Regions from separate parts of the Homo sapiens genome. Here regions 1 and 2 are each linked to region 3. Evidence: fine-mapped expression QTL. A gene starts in region 3. Each other region holds a variant in brackets. All regions are shown on one strand. Distances are from middle to middle.

Evidence for each region.
Region 1: its variant is fine-mapped to the expression of SLC1A7 in tibial nerve (GTEx, PIP above 0.99). The same link has a PIP of 0.9 or more in testis.
Region 2: its variant is fine-mapped to the expression of SLC1A7 in tibial nerve (GTEx, PIP above 0.99). The same link has a PIP of 0.9 or more in breast, esophagus mucosa, sigmoid colon, subcutaneous fat, sun-exposed skin and testis.

The regions. Positions count from the first base shown.
Region 1 is chr1:53,092,647-53,096,646 of GRCh38, reverse strand. It overlaps SLC1A7 (solute carrier family 1 member 7), which reads left to right. Exons shown (of 11, transcript NM_006671.6): 6 at 3,087-3,186; 7 at 3,860-4,000. Among named protein-coding and RNA genes, the nearest start is that of PODN, 32 kb to the right of the region's middle. RefSeq lists an enhancer at 1,224-1,761. The variant A/G (reference allele first, on the strand shown) is at 2,018.
Region 2 is chr1:53,086,400-53,090,644 of GRCh38, reverse strand. It overlaps SLC1A7 (solute carrier family 1 member 7), which reads left to right. Exons shown (of 11, transcript NM_006671.6): 8 at 1-33; 9 at 711-845; 10 at 1,666-1,768; 11 at 2,418-3,462. The coding sequence ends at 2,636. Among named protein-coding and RNA genes, the nearest start is that of PODN, 26 kb to the right of the region's middle. The variant C/T (reference allele first, on the strand shown) is at 2,012.
Region 3 is chr1:53,140,632-53,144,886 of GRCh38, reverse strand. SLC1A7 (solute carrier family 1 member 7) reads left to right here and starts at 2,249. Exons shown (of 11, transcript NM_006671.6): 1 at 2,249-2,572. The coding sequence starts at 2,438.

The sequences.
Region 1 (4,000 bases), 48 kb after region 3:
TGTACCGAAGTGGTATGTGTACTGAAGTGGTGTGTAAGTTTACCAAGGCAGGGTGTGTGAGTGTATCGAAGTGGAGTGTGTGAGTGTACTGAGGCATGGGGTGTGAGTGTACTGAGCTGGGGTTTATGTGCGTGTGAGTGTACCGAGGTGGAGTGTGTGAGTGTGCTAAGGTGGGGTGTGTAATTGTAATGAAGCAAGGTGTGTGAGTGTACCGAGGCAGGGTGTGTGAGTGTACCGAGGCGAGGCGTGTGAGTGTACCTAGGCGGGATGTGTGAGTGTACCAAGGTGGTGTGAGTGTACTGAGACAGGGTGTGTGAGTGTACCAAGATGGGGTGAGTTTACCGAGACAGTGTGAGTGTACCGAGTCGGTGTGTGTGAGTGTACAGATGCATGGTTTGAGTGTACCAAGGCAGGGTGTGTGAGTGTATCGAGGCTAGGCGCGTGAAAGTAACAACGTGGGGCATGTGGGTGTACCGAGGTGGTGTGTGTGAGTGTACCAAGGCGGGGTGAATGTACTGAGGTGGGGTGTGTGAGTGTAATGAGGTGGGGGGGTGTGAGCATACCAAGGCAGTGTGAGTGTACTGAGGCAGTTGAGTGTACCGAGGCGAGTTGTGTGAGTGTACTGAGGTGGAGTGAGTGTACTGAGGCGGGGTGTGTGTGTACCAAGGTGGTGTGTGTGAATGCACCGAGGTGGTGTGACTGTACCAAGGCAGTTTGTGTGAGTGTACCGAGGCGGGTTGTGTGAGTGTACCGAGGCGATGTGAATGTACCAAGGTGGTGTGAGTGTACTGAGGTGGTGTGTGTGAGTGTACCGAGGCAGTGTGTGTGAGTGTACCAAGTCGGGGTGAATGTACCGAGGTGGGGTGTGTGAGTGTAACAAGGTGGAGTGAGTGTACCGAGGCAGTTGAGTGTACCGAGGCAAGTTGTGTGTGTGTACCGAGGCAGGGTGTGTGAGTGTATTGAGCTGGGGTGTGTGAGTGTACCTAGGCAGGTTGTGTGAGTGTACTGAGGCGGGTTTAAGTGTACCAAGGCAGTGTGTGTGTAACGAGGCGGGGTGTGTGAGTGTATCGAGGCAGGGTGAGTGTACCAAGGCGAGTTGAGTGTACCGAGGCGGTGTGAGTGTAACGAGGCAGAGTGTGTGAGTGTACCGAGGCGGTGTGAATGTACTGAGGCAAGGTGTGTGAGTGTACCAAGGCGGGGTGTGTGAGTGTACCAAGGCAGGGTGTGTGAGTGTACCAAGGCAGGGTGTGGCTTACTGTGTATGCTCATGCCTTTATGTGCCCACATCTGCCAGTGCCTGTGTCTGTGTGCACGTGCATCTCTGTGTCCCTGCATCAGTGTGTGCCTGGCCTCTCCGTGCCTGTGTCTGTGTGCACCTGTGTCCCTGTGTTCCCCCATCAGCATGCGCCTGGCTTACCTGTGCCTGTGTCTATGTGCACCTGCGTCTGTGTGTGCTCATGCCTGCGTGTGCCCACATCTGCCTGTGCTCATGTCTGGGTGCAGCTGCATTCCTGTGTCCCCGCATCAGCGTGTGCCTGGTCTTTCCGTGCCTGTGTCTGTGTGCACCTGCTTCTGTGTGTGCCTGTGCCTGTCAGTGTCCACATCTGCCGGTGCCTGTGCCTGTTGGTGCAGATACCAGTGTCTGCCCGCGTGTGTGAGTGAGCACACTAGCACAGCGGCTCCGAGCAGGGCTTTCTTTGGTTCCCTCAACCCAGCCTCCTTTCCCCACCCCATCCCTGGGATGTGGCTGGTGCTAAGGTCCTGCTGGCCCTGCCGTGAGGGAGCCCCCGTGCCACACTAGGGTTCCATGCACACTGGCTCCCAGCAGCCAGTCCTCGGATGCCCCTGGGAAAATCCAAATGGGCCTGAGGAGGGGCAGGAAGCCCGTGCGTGGTGGTGGTGGAGCCCGGGGAGGGCGGAGCCGGCAGGGGAGTCTGGGTCTGCATCAGCCAGGCGGCAGGAAGACAGGCGGGCGGGGTAGGCCCAGGGTCACCTCCAACTCCAGCCTCTCCTACCC[A/G]CCCTGGCAGGGCCCTCACCTCACTCCGTCACCACGGGGTAGCTGCTCCATGGACTGTGTGGCTCAGGCTTCTCAGGACAGGGAAAGAGCCCTTCTCTGGTGTCCCACAGGCCAGGGTTTGAATCCCACCCTGCCTCCCTAGCTGAGCCCCAGCACCATGACAGTGGGCCTCATGAGGGCAGCTGTAGAGAGTGCTCTGCTCCCCACGTCGGTCTCACCAGGAGGTAGGGCAGCCACTCAGTCCCTGTTTCAGGACTGGCCTGACAGAGCTCACCCCACGGAGCCGTTCCCACACCACCCTTTCCTGGTGTGTGCGAGCTGGGGAGGAAGGCCTAGAATGCCGGGGGAGGCGCCAGGAGCATCAGGAAAGGCCCTAGTCCTCACTCACCATTGACCACTGTGCGTCTAACATGCTCCAGCTAAGGAGATGCAGTTCTTGCTCTCGCTGAGCTAACCTCGCAGAGGAGACGGGAAAAAACCCAGACAGTTATGTTGTAATAGGCCCTAAGAGGTGAGATATTGAAGAATAAATGGGAGTTTGCAAAGGGGATCGGGGATGGCTTCCAAGCTGTTTGGAGAGCGGGCAGCCAGTGCCTGGGGCACTGTGTAAACGGCTTGCGCAAAGGCCCTGAGGCAGTGAAGAGCTGGACTCCCTCCTTCCAGAAACTTAAAGAAGGCCAGTGGTGCCAGGGCACAGTGAGATGGGCAGGAGCAGGAGGGAGAGGCAGGCAGGGCCCACTCGAGTGGGGCTGAGGCATCGAGCTGGGTGAGGCAGCGGGGAGCTTGTCATGGCCTAAGCGCACAGCGAAGCCAGGGGTGCACTTGGCAGGGAGCACTTTTATCCTGAGGAGGTGACATTGGCTGCTGCGTGGAGGAAGGTGAGAGAGGAGGACGTGAGAGCACTGTGGGATCGGTAGTAGAGTGGAGGAGGAGAGAGGGAGAGAGAGAGTGGGGGGAGTGGGGGGAGTGCTGGAGCATCAAGGCTGCTGGGAAGCCAGCCATGCTGAGACCCATGTGGGCCTGTGGGTCTGTCCCTGCTTTACCACAGCACTGTGTCCCTGACCCGCAGGCATCATGCTGGGCCGCATGGGTGACAGCGGGGCCCCCCTGGTCAGCTTCTGCCAGTGCCTCAATGAGTCGGTCATGAAGATCGTGGCGGTGGCTGTGTGGTAAGCCTCCTCATTTACCCACCTCACCCCGGCCAGCCCTGGGTGGATGGAGGGAAGACAAGACCCCACCCTCTTCTCCCGTAAAGTGAGCAGAAAGCTGTGCCCAGGCTCAGCCCTGGGCCGGGGCCTCCGGAGCTACATGTGTTTCCATGGGTCCCCCAGCCCCAGCCAGGCCTGGCTCCGGCCCTGGGCCTGCCCCTTCCAGCCTGGTCTAAGAGCTCTGCCCGGCTCTGCTGCTCTCCTGGGCTCAGTTTCTCCATCACATGGAGCCTTATCAGCTCAGCTTTTGGAGAAAGGAAAGCTGGCGGTAAGGACTAGCCCACAGTTCAGAGTCCTCGGCCCACAGTTCAGAGTCCAGGAGCTCAGTGGGGAACGCAGAGGGAGGGCTGCCCAGGCGCACTGTGTAGACTCTGGCGTTGTTGGGCCTGAAATGGGGGCCTCCTGAAGGCAGGGCGGGGGAAGGAGTGGCAGAGGTTGTCTGGAGCTGGGGCGGTGGAAGTAACGGTATGAAGGACGCCATGTGCTGAGCCTGGGCCGGGCACCTTGGCAGTCTCGCTCTGTCCTCGCAGGAGCCCCAGGAAGCTCAGGGGGAAGGCCGCGCAGCGATGCGGGGCTGGGGCCGGGGTGTGTCTGCCTGCCTGGTTCCTGAGCCTGGCTGCCCCGCCGCCCCCAGGTATTTCCCCTTCGGCATTGTGTTCCTCATTGCGGGTAAGATCCTGGAGATGGACGACCCCAGGGCCGTCGGCAAGAAGCTGGGCTTCTACTCAGTCACCGTGGTGTGCGGGCTGGTGCTCCACGGGCTCTTTATCCTGCC
Region 2 (4,245 bases), 54 kb after region 3:
CGAGCTGGACTTTGGCCAGATCATCACCATCAGGTGCACCCTGACACTGCACCTGGGTGGATGGGGCGGGGGCTGGGGGCCTTGGGGATTCCCAGGCTCCCAGACTTGAGGGGTATCTGAAGCGAGCGAGCCTGGGCTCGGAGCACAGCAGGCAGAGGGCCAGGGCTGGGAGCTCCGAGCCTGGAGGACAGCCCGGGAGGGAGGGCATTGCTGGTGGCCACAGGGCGAGCGGAGGCCAGGGACAGGACTCAGGACCTTGGAGAGGCCGCCCGTGTGGCAGGAGCCAACGAAGGGGTGCTGGGATGCGGCTGAGGCTGACGGAGGCCTCACAGCCCAGCCAAGCACACAGGTCTGACCCTGGAGGCCAGGCCCCAGAGGCAGGCAGGCAGAGCCATGTGGTGGTCAGTCAGAGTCCCTGGGCAGCCCCATAGCAATATAGCTTCCTGGAACCCACAGAGGCACAGCTCCAGACACAGGTGTTTGCACAGTTCCCAGGGATTCTCCTGAGGCCAGGAATGGGGGTCCATGGGGCTTCAGGACTGTGAGGAGGGACTTGACCCCGAGAGCTCCCTGGTGTGGCATTCCTACCCACCCCCCGCACCAAATGGCTGTCCCAGAGGCCCTGACACTCAACCTCTTCCTTGGAGCCAGACCCTGACAATGCACCCTGCCCCTCCTGCTGCTCCTCTTCCCCTTCCCACCCCCTGCAGTATCACAGCCACTGCAGCCAGCATTGGGGCAGCTGGCATCCCCCAGGCCGGCCTCGTCACCATGGTCATCGTGCTCACCTCCGTGGGACTGCCCACCGATGACATCACCCTCATCATTGCCGTTGACTGGGCTCTGTGAGTGGACTTTGCCTCTAGCTCTAGCCCTCTGGGAGGGGCTGACTTCAGGGTCAGCAGGGATCAGGGTGAGCGGCTGAGTCCCTTCCCCAGGGTAGAAGGCTGGGGACTGCCCCGCTTGGCACTGTGGGAGTGCCCTACTCATTAGCACAGGCCTGGCTGCATAATTTGTGGGGTCCAGTGTTCAAAAATGAAAATGTGGAACCCAGTCCAAAAACTGTAAAGGCCAGGCATGATGACTCACGCCTATATGTCCCAGAACTTTGAGAGGCCATGGCAGGAGCATTCCTTGAGCCCAGGAATTCCAGAGCCCAGCCTGGGCAACACAGTAAAATCCCCATCTCTACTAAAAATTAGAAAAGAAAAAATTAGCTGGGACTGGTGACATGTGCCTGTAATCCCAGCTATTCAGGTGGCTGAGGCACGAGAATTACCTGAACCTGGGAGATGGAGGTTTCAGTAAGCCGAGATGGCGCCACTGCACTCCAGCCTGAGTGACAGAGCAAGACTCTGTCTCAAAAAACAAACAAACAAACAAACAAAAAACAAACCTATAAAGAATTTCAAGACAGAAACAGCAGAGGATTAAACCAAACCTAACCCTTCTAAGCATGGGGACCTGTGGAACCCACAGCTGCATGCCAAGAAGCTGCTTCAATGATGCCAAAGGGTGGGCTTGGGAGGAGCCAGGAAGCCATCTGGCTGCAGGCTTTGCATGACAGCTGGTCACCGGCCGTGCTGTACTGTGCTGGGTTGAGCACTGCCCTCTTCCAGCTCCCCTTCAAGTGCCCACCACTCACCCCCAACCTTGGCTCACCAGGGACCGTTTCCGCACCATGATTAACGTGCTGGGTGATGCGCTGGCAGCGGGGATCATGGCCCATATATGTCGGAAGGATTTTGCCCGGGACACAGGCACCGAGGTGAGAGCAGTGAGATCCAGAGGCTGCCAGGAGGGTGGAGCCACGCAGGGTGGGCAGGGCACCAGATCTTCCACCAACCAGCTCGGCAGCCTCCAGCCAATCCCTCCCTCCATGCCTCTGGGCCTCGGTCTCCTCATCCGTTACAGAATGACTGATTCCTCTAACATCTATTTATTGAGCACCCGCTGTGGCTGGCGCTGATATAGACACAGGAGGAACAGTAGAACAAGATATGATAAAATT[C/T]CCCGCCCTCGTGTCGGGATGGTCTGTCCAGTTTAGCCAACATGTGAGCATTTGTAGGTCTGTGCAGGCTGTGTGGGCTTCAGGCTCCTTCTACAGGCAAATGGAGAAGGCTGTCCCCACATCATGGGGAAGAAGCTGAGGTCAGGCAGGGGATCCACCAATTCCCCAGATGGACCCTGTGGATTAAGTCCCCTCCTCTACTAAGCCAGCTCCAGTGGGAGGCAGGACGCTTGGGAACAGGAGCCCAGGGAGGCCGTGACCTGCCGAGGTCACACAGCGTGTCTGCAGGAAAATCCATCTTGTGGTTCCTAGCCCTGAGCTCATTCTGCCCCACTGGCCCTCAGTCCTCCCTCGTATCTAACCTTGGTCCCTCCTGCTGCTACAAAGACCTGTTTCCCTTCACCAGAAACTGCTGCCCTGCGAGACCAAGCCAGTGAGCCTCCAGGAGATCGTGGCAGCCCAGCAGAATGGCTGTGTGAAGAGTGTAGCCGAGGCCTCCGAGCTCACCCTGGGCCCCACCTGCCCCCACCACGTCCCCGTTCAAGTGGAGCAGGATGAGGAGCTGCCCGCTGCGAGTCTGAACCACTGCACCATCCAGATCAGTGAGCTGGAGACCAATGTCTGAGCCTGCGGAGCTGCAGGGGCAGGCGAGGCCTCCAGGGGCAGGGTCCTGAGGCAGGAACTCGACTCTCCAACCCTCCTGAGCAGCCGGCAGGGGCCAGGATCACACATTCTTCTCACCCTTGAGAGGCTGGAATTAACCCCGCTTGACGGAAAATGTATCTCAGAGAAGGGAAAGGCTGCATGGGGGAGCCCCATCTAGGGAGTGATGGGCCCGGCATTGCCTGAGGCCCCGCTGTGACAGTTTCCCCGGTGTGAGCCCGGTGAGGGCGGCAGGCAGGGGTTATCCGGCCCCACTTTCTGGATGACAGACTTGAGGCTCTGAGAGCTGAAAACACTTGTCCAAGGTCTCACGTTAAGGTCAAGACACTAACTCAAATCTTTCAAGCCCCGCCTCTCCTCTTGGAGGACAGGGCAGCCTGCAGCTGTGTCCAGGCCCAGGCCCCACCCCATAACAGGTGGCCTCAGCCACACAGTTCTCCCCAAGGGGAGCAGCCCAGGGCCAAGCCCCGCTGCCTTCCCCAGGCCACAGTGCGTCCAGTCTCCTGTCCTGCCACGTGTCTTTTGCAAAGCTCCTTGGATGTGGAGACAGATGTCTTTACTAGAGCTGAAAGGCCCCCTTGACACATCCAGGCCAACCTCCCATGGAATAGGTAGGCAAGCCAGGACTCCGGGAAGGAGGTGCAGCCAGGATGCTCTGGTGGAGCTGCCGATGGGGCCCTGGTGTCAGAACTCCCCAAAGGCCTGTGCGTCCAAGTGGAGTCAGGTTTTCTATTCCTTTCTGTGTTTGCAAATTCAGTGTTAACTAAATAAAGGTATTTTGTTTTTCACTTCTTGTGGGCTTCAACACCTTATGCTAGCCAGCAAATATGATATTAGCTACTGGGCTAATTAATACAGGCGGCCAGAGTGCAGACGGGCCTGTCTGGGCAGCCAGGATATGGGCGGGCCTATGCAGGTGGCCAGAATCTAACAGGCTTGTCCATTTGGCTGGAGTGTAGACAGGTCTGTCTAGGCTGCCAGTGTGTGGACAGGCCTGTATGGGCAGCCAGAGTGCAGAGAAGCCTGTCCTGGTGGCTGCAGTAAGGACAGTCCTATCTGAGCTGTCACATGCAGAAGACAGAGTATAAGCTAGCCTACCCAGGAGCCTGTCTCAATAACCACAGGGCAGCTGGGCATCGTCCAGTGTGGACAGACCTCTCTGCCATGGTCTAGGCTCTGCTCTGCAGGCAGGGCCTTGAGATCAGTCCCCAAAGAAGAAACAGATTTCCTTCCCAGTCTGGCTCCCCGTGGTGAATGCTTTGCTTTAGACAGGGGCGTGCCCAGGGACATTTCCAGATGGTCTCCCTCATTCTCACACCCCAGGCTGCCTCCAGGAGGCCTGCAGGGCACACAGAAGGGCCCTGGCAACACAGCCTGTTCCAGATATGCCTTGGGGAGAAGATACAGCTCTGGGGTCTGGAGGGGCTTGCACCATGATGCCCTTGAAGACACTAAGGCCCAGGGAGGGGACAGGCCTCCCCCAGGTCACTCAGCGTCAAGAGGGCACCTGCTCCCACTGCCCCATTCCTGAACTCCTTCCACCCTCCTCCCAGGGGTGGAGTGTGAGGAGT
Region 3 (4,255 bases):
CCCAAACTTCCTTTTGATGTAATTATGGAAAAATTGTCTTGCACATCTAGTGACATTGTAAAAGGCAGTTGATTCTTTGTCAATGGTGAACTATTATAGGGTTCTGACCCAGGAGACTTGATTTGATTTGCAAATATTCTTAGTAAACTCATTATCAGTCACTTACACTTTAGTGTGAATTAGTCCGTTCTTGGGGTCTCTCCACTTTCTTATAAGCTTCCTGAAGGCAGGGCAGGTACTGTCTGATTCACTGTTGTGTTTCTAGTACCCAGGGGGTGTGGCACACTAAATGGTGCTATAAGAACATTTGCTAGAGTGAGTTGAAATTCTCCTGTTGAAGACCGTAGGAACAGTGGAAAGAATGGCTGTAGTCTGGTAGGCAGGTAGTGGTAGGCTCAGCCTGTGGGAGAGAGGAGTCAGTGGTGGCTATAGGGCACGTCCTGGGAATGGGAGTCATGGAGCTGTGGTAGAAAGCAAGACTCACCTATATCATGGCACAGCTAAAGGCCAGGTCTGGGCTGGGTGTGGTGGCTCATGCCTGCAGTCCCAACACGTTAGGAGGCCAAGATGGGAGGATTGTTTGAGCCCAGGAGTTGATCAAAACCCAAATCCAAATACCTACTTAGCATATTTTCTCTTCTGGGAAGTAACTAACCACCTGATTATTTGGAAAATGAGGCATTTGTTGGAGTTGAAGGTGTAGCAAGAAACTTTTGGTTTTAAGAGTCAAAGTCAGAGGAAAAAAAACTCTCAGACTTGTATTCACCCCCACCCCCCACCCCAAGCTACTGCAAAGAGCAGGGGCTTTGGAAGATTGGTTTGTTGAAATGAAGTTCCTTTGACAAAGGTACCTGGGCCCATTTCTCTCATTCTAAAAAGGACAAGACTGATACCCAGAGACGGCAAGGTCACAGAGCTGATTAAATTGGGATCAGAATCTTCTCAGTCAGGAGCTCTGTCCATGGCTTCAGAGCCTGTGCCCCAGTCCCCTCTCCCCACCTCTCCCCTATGCCCCACTTGGCCCGTCCTCTTCATCCTCTGCCCCTGTCTCCTATGTCAGGAGGAGGAAGCCCCTGTGTGCACCCCACCCTTTACCTCCCACCCTCACTGCAGACTGCACTTCCCATTCCCTGCTGCCTGCTGCCTGACTGCTCCTAATGAGATTACAGATCTCTGGTGAAATAGACGAGGGTTAATTCCCCCAGGCTTTACAGGGCAGGGCAGGCCAGGCCACAAGAAATAGCAAAAAGACACCTATTCTCCAAAGCACTAAGTGTGATAATGACCCTAAGAGTCCGTTCCCCTGTTCAGCACACCAGGGTTCACACTGCGTTTCCAAATACCCTCTGGGTGGAATTTTGTACCAGCCCTAACAAAGTAGATGCTGTTATCATCTCTATTTTACAGATGGAGAAACTGAGGCACAGTGAGATGAAATGCTTGTCTGAGGTCACACAGCTAGTAAGTGGCAGAGCTGGGACCCGAATGTGGGTCTCTTGGGCTCTGTCATCTTTAAAAAATAATAGGCCCAGAGAGCCTGCAGGGTGCCCAGCACCAGGCTTGAAACAGCCCTGAAGCATCTACGTCCCATTTCCCGGTGAGTGGCACAGCCCACCTTTGAACTCAGGTCCCCTGGACTCGAATCTACATTCCCCACAATACTGCCAAGCACCCTTGAACCTATCTGCCTGTTCATGTGGTGGAAACAGACTGGCCTAGCCCTGACTTCTGACCTCTGTGACCATGGCCAAGGGACTGGCTTCTGGGGTCTCAGCCTCCCTTTCTGAAAAATGAAGGTGGGAACCCTGGGATCTTTGGGACAATTCCCTATGATTGGCATAGCTAAGGCAGCCAGCACAGGCCTGGCCCGCAGCACATGCACCCACCCACCTCAGTTTCTTTATCTGTAAAATGGTGATATTAATAGTACTTATTTCTTGGGATTGGTGTTAGGATTAAATATGCCAGTACATGTAACACTCTTCTAGAATGGCACCTGGTGCATAGTAAATGCTTAATTAATGTTGAGGGAAACTGATATCTTACTGTCTTGTTTTTGATTCTTTCTGGAAGGAAGCAGGGGTAAAGATCAAACCAACCAAGCAAATGTTCCTCTTGTTCCTTCCAGTACCTGGTCCACTCAACTGTTTAAGAGGAACGCTTGGCTTTGAGGCCTGAACTCCTAGACCACGTGGTCTGCTCTAATTTCCCAGGCCCTAATCTGCTCCCAGCTCCTAATGATGCAGCTGGTAATAGGATTGTGGCTTCCCTCTAAGGCGGCCACACGGGCATGGCCGTGGGGCTGGCGACTGGTGTTTAGCAACTCCGACCACCTGCCTGCTGAGGGGCTAGAGCCCTCAGCCCAGACCCTGTGCCCCCGGCCGGGCTCTCATGCGTGGAATGGTGCTGTGCCCCTTGCCAGCAGGCCAGGCTCACCATGGTGCCGCATGCCATCTTGGCACGGGGGAGGGACGTGTGCAGGCGGAATGGACTCCTCATCCTGTCTGTGCTGTCTGTCATCGTGGGCTGCCTCCTCGGCTTCTTCTTGAGGACCCGGCGCCTCTCACCACAGGTCAGCCACCCAGAGCATCTCGGGACCCCTGTCCAGGAGGGGCGTGTGGGCCTGAGGGATCTGGGGTCCCGTTCTAGCATCACAGCTCCCTGGTGCCATGACAGTGTGTGAATCCCTCTGCCTCTCTGGGTCCTGGTTTTCTCATCTGTAACATGGGTGTGATAAACACTTTGCAGGACTAGAGGGAAGAACCAGTGATGTGGCTGGGGAGTGATTACAAACCCAGCACCATCAGGTGAGGAGAGGCGAGGGTGCCTCATGATGACAAACACAGGGCCAAGAGCTGTGGCGGGGAAAGAGGGGGGTCTTGTGTGAGTTCAAACAGGCACCAGAGAACACCTCCTAAAGGCTGCTCAAATGACAAGAGATCCAGGAAGCGTGCTCTAGGCAGAGGTGACAGCAGATGCCAGGTGCAGCGGCCGGAGCGCAGAGGCCAGCAGGCCCATAGGTCCCATCGCCACACGTGGGCTTGCGGCAACCATGAGATGCTTTTGGGCAGAAGAGCGACAGGCCAGTTTGGAGCTTGGGAGACCCCTCAGGTGCTGAGTGGAGAGGGGGTGATTCTGGGGCAGGCAGGGGGCCGAGAAGGGGCAGCCTGGGGGAGATGCGGCAGTGCAGACAAAAGGGACAGACGTGAGAACTGTTTTCAAAAGGGGGAGCTTCAGGATGTGGGGGCCGATTGGATGTGGGCTGGGGGACAGGAAGGGGAGCCAGGCCCCGGGTTTCCAGCCTGTGTAACTGCCATGAAGAAGCTGCGTTTCCTGGGAAAGAGCCCCTTTCCCTGTCAGCCCCCATCTCCTACAGGAGAGGGAGGGACATTCCCATGGTGTTAAGGACAAAATCATTCTGCCACTAGTTAAACTGGTAAGGAAGGCTCTATTCAGGACTATTGTGGTAGGGGGGTAGTTATCAAGACCTCCTGGGGAGAGAGATGGGACCCAACCACAAATACAACAAAGATGGCTGGAGATTTATAGCCAGCGAGCAGAGGGAGGGGGTCGGGGACAGAAAATGACTACAGGAGACATCAGGGTAGGGGGATTCTTGTTGAAGGCAGGCCAGGGTGATCAGACATTGATCTGGGATGAGGAATTTGATCCAGTATCAGGATGCTGGAGGGTGAGGGATCCTCACTAAACTGACTTGGCAGGACTTTTGCTACAGCTGGACTATGCAGGCTGAAGACAAGGCCCAAGGACAAAGCCCAGTGGAAAAGAGGGCTCAGAGGAGCCTGTCTAAAGTGTGGTCAAGGAGAGAGGCTTTGTCAATGGGCTCCTGGAAGAGTCCCTATTCCCAGAAAGTCCTCTTCCCGCAGCTCACTAATGTCTAATGCCATCTCTACAACTGGGGTCAGGCATTAGACTTTGTCTTCCATTAAAAGGAAAACACCCACTCCTGGAGAACTGAGCCACGACTATAGTGACCCTGTTAAGCCTCGAGCAGTTATTTAGGAAGAAGCATGGACTCTGGAGGCAGAGAAACCCTGAACTTTGACTCTGCTAGCAAATGGCTAGGCAATATCCTCTCTCCTCCCTGGGCCTCAGTTTCCTTGTCTGTAAAATGGGATGTGGGGCAGTATATGTCTACTAGAATTATTATGAGGAATAAACCAAGGATTCATCAATGCCCAGCATACAGTAGGTGCTTACTACGTGTTACTTCCCCCTCCCTCCCTTATGTACC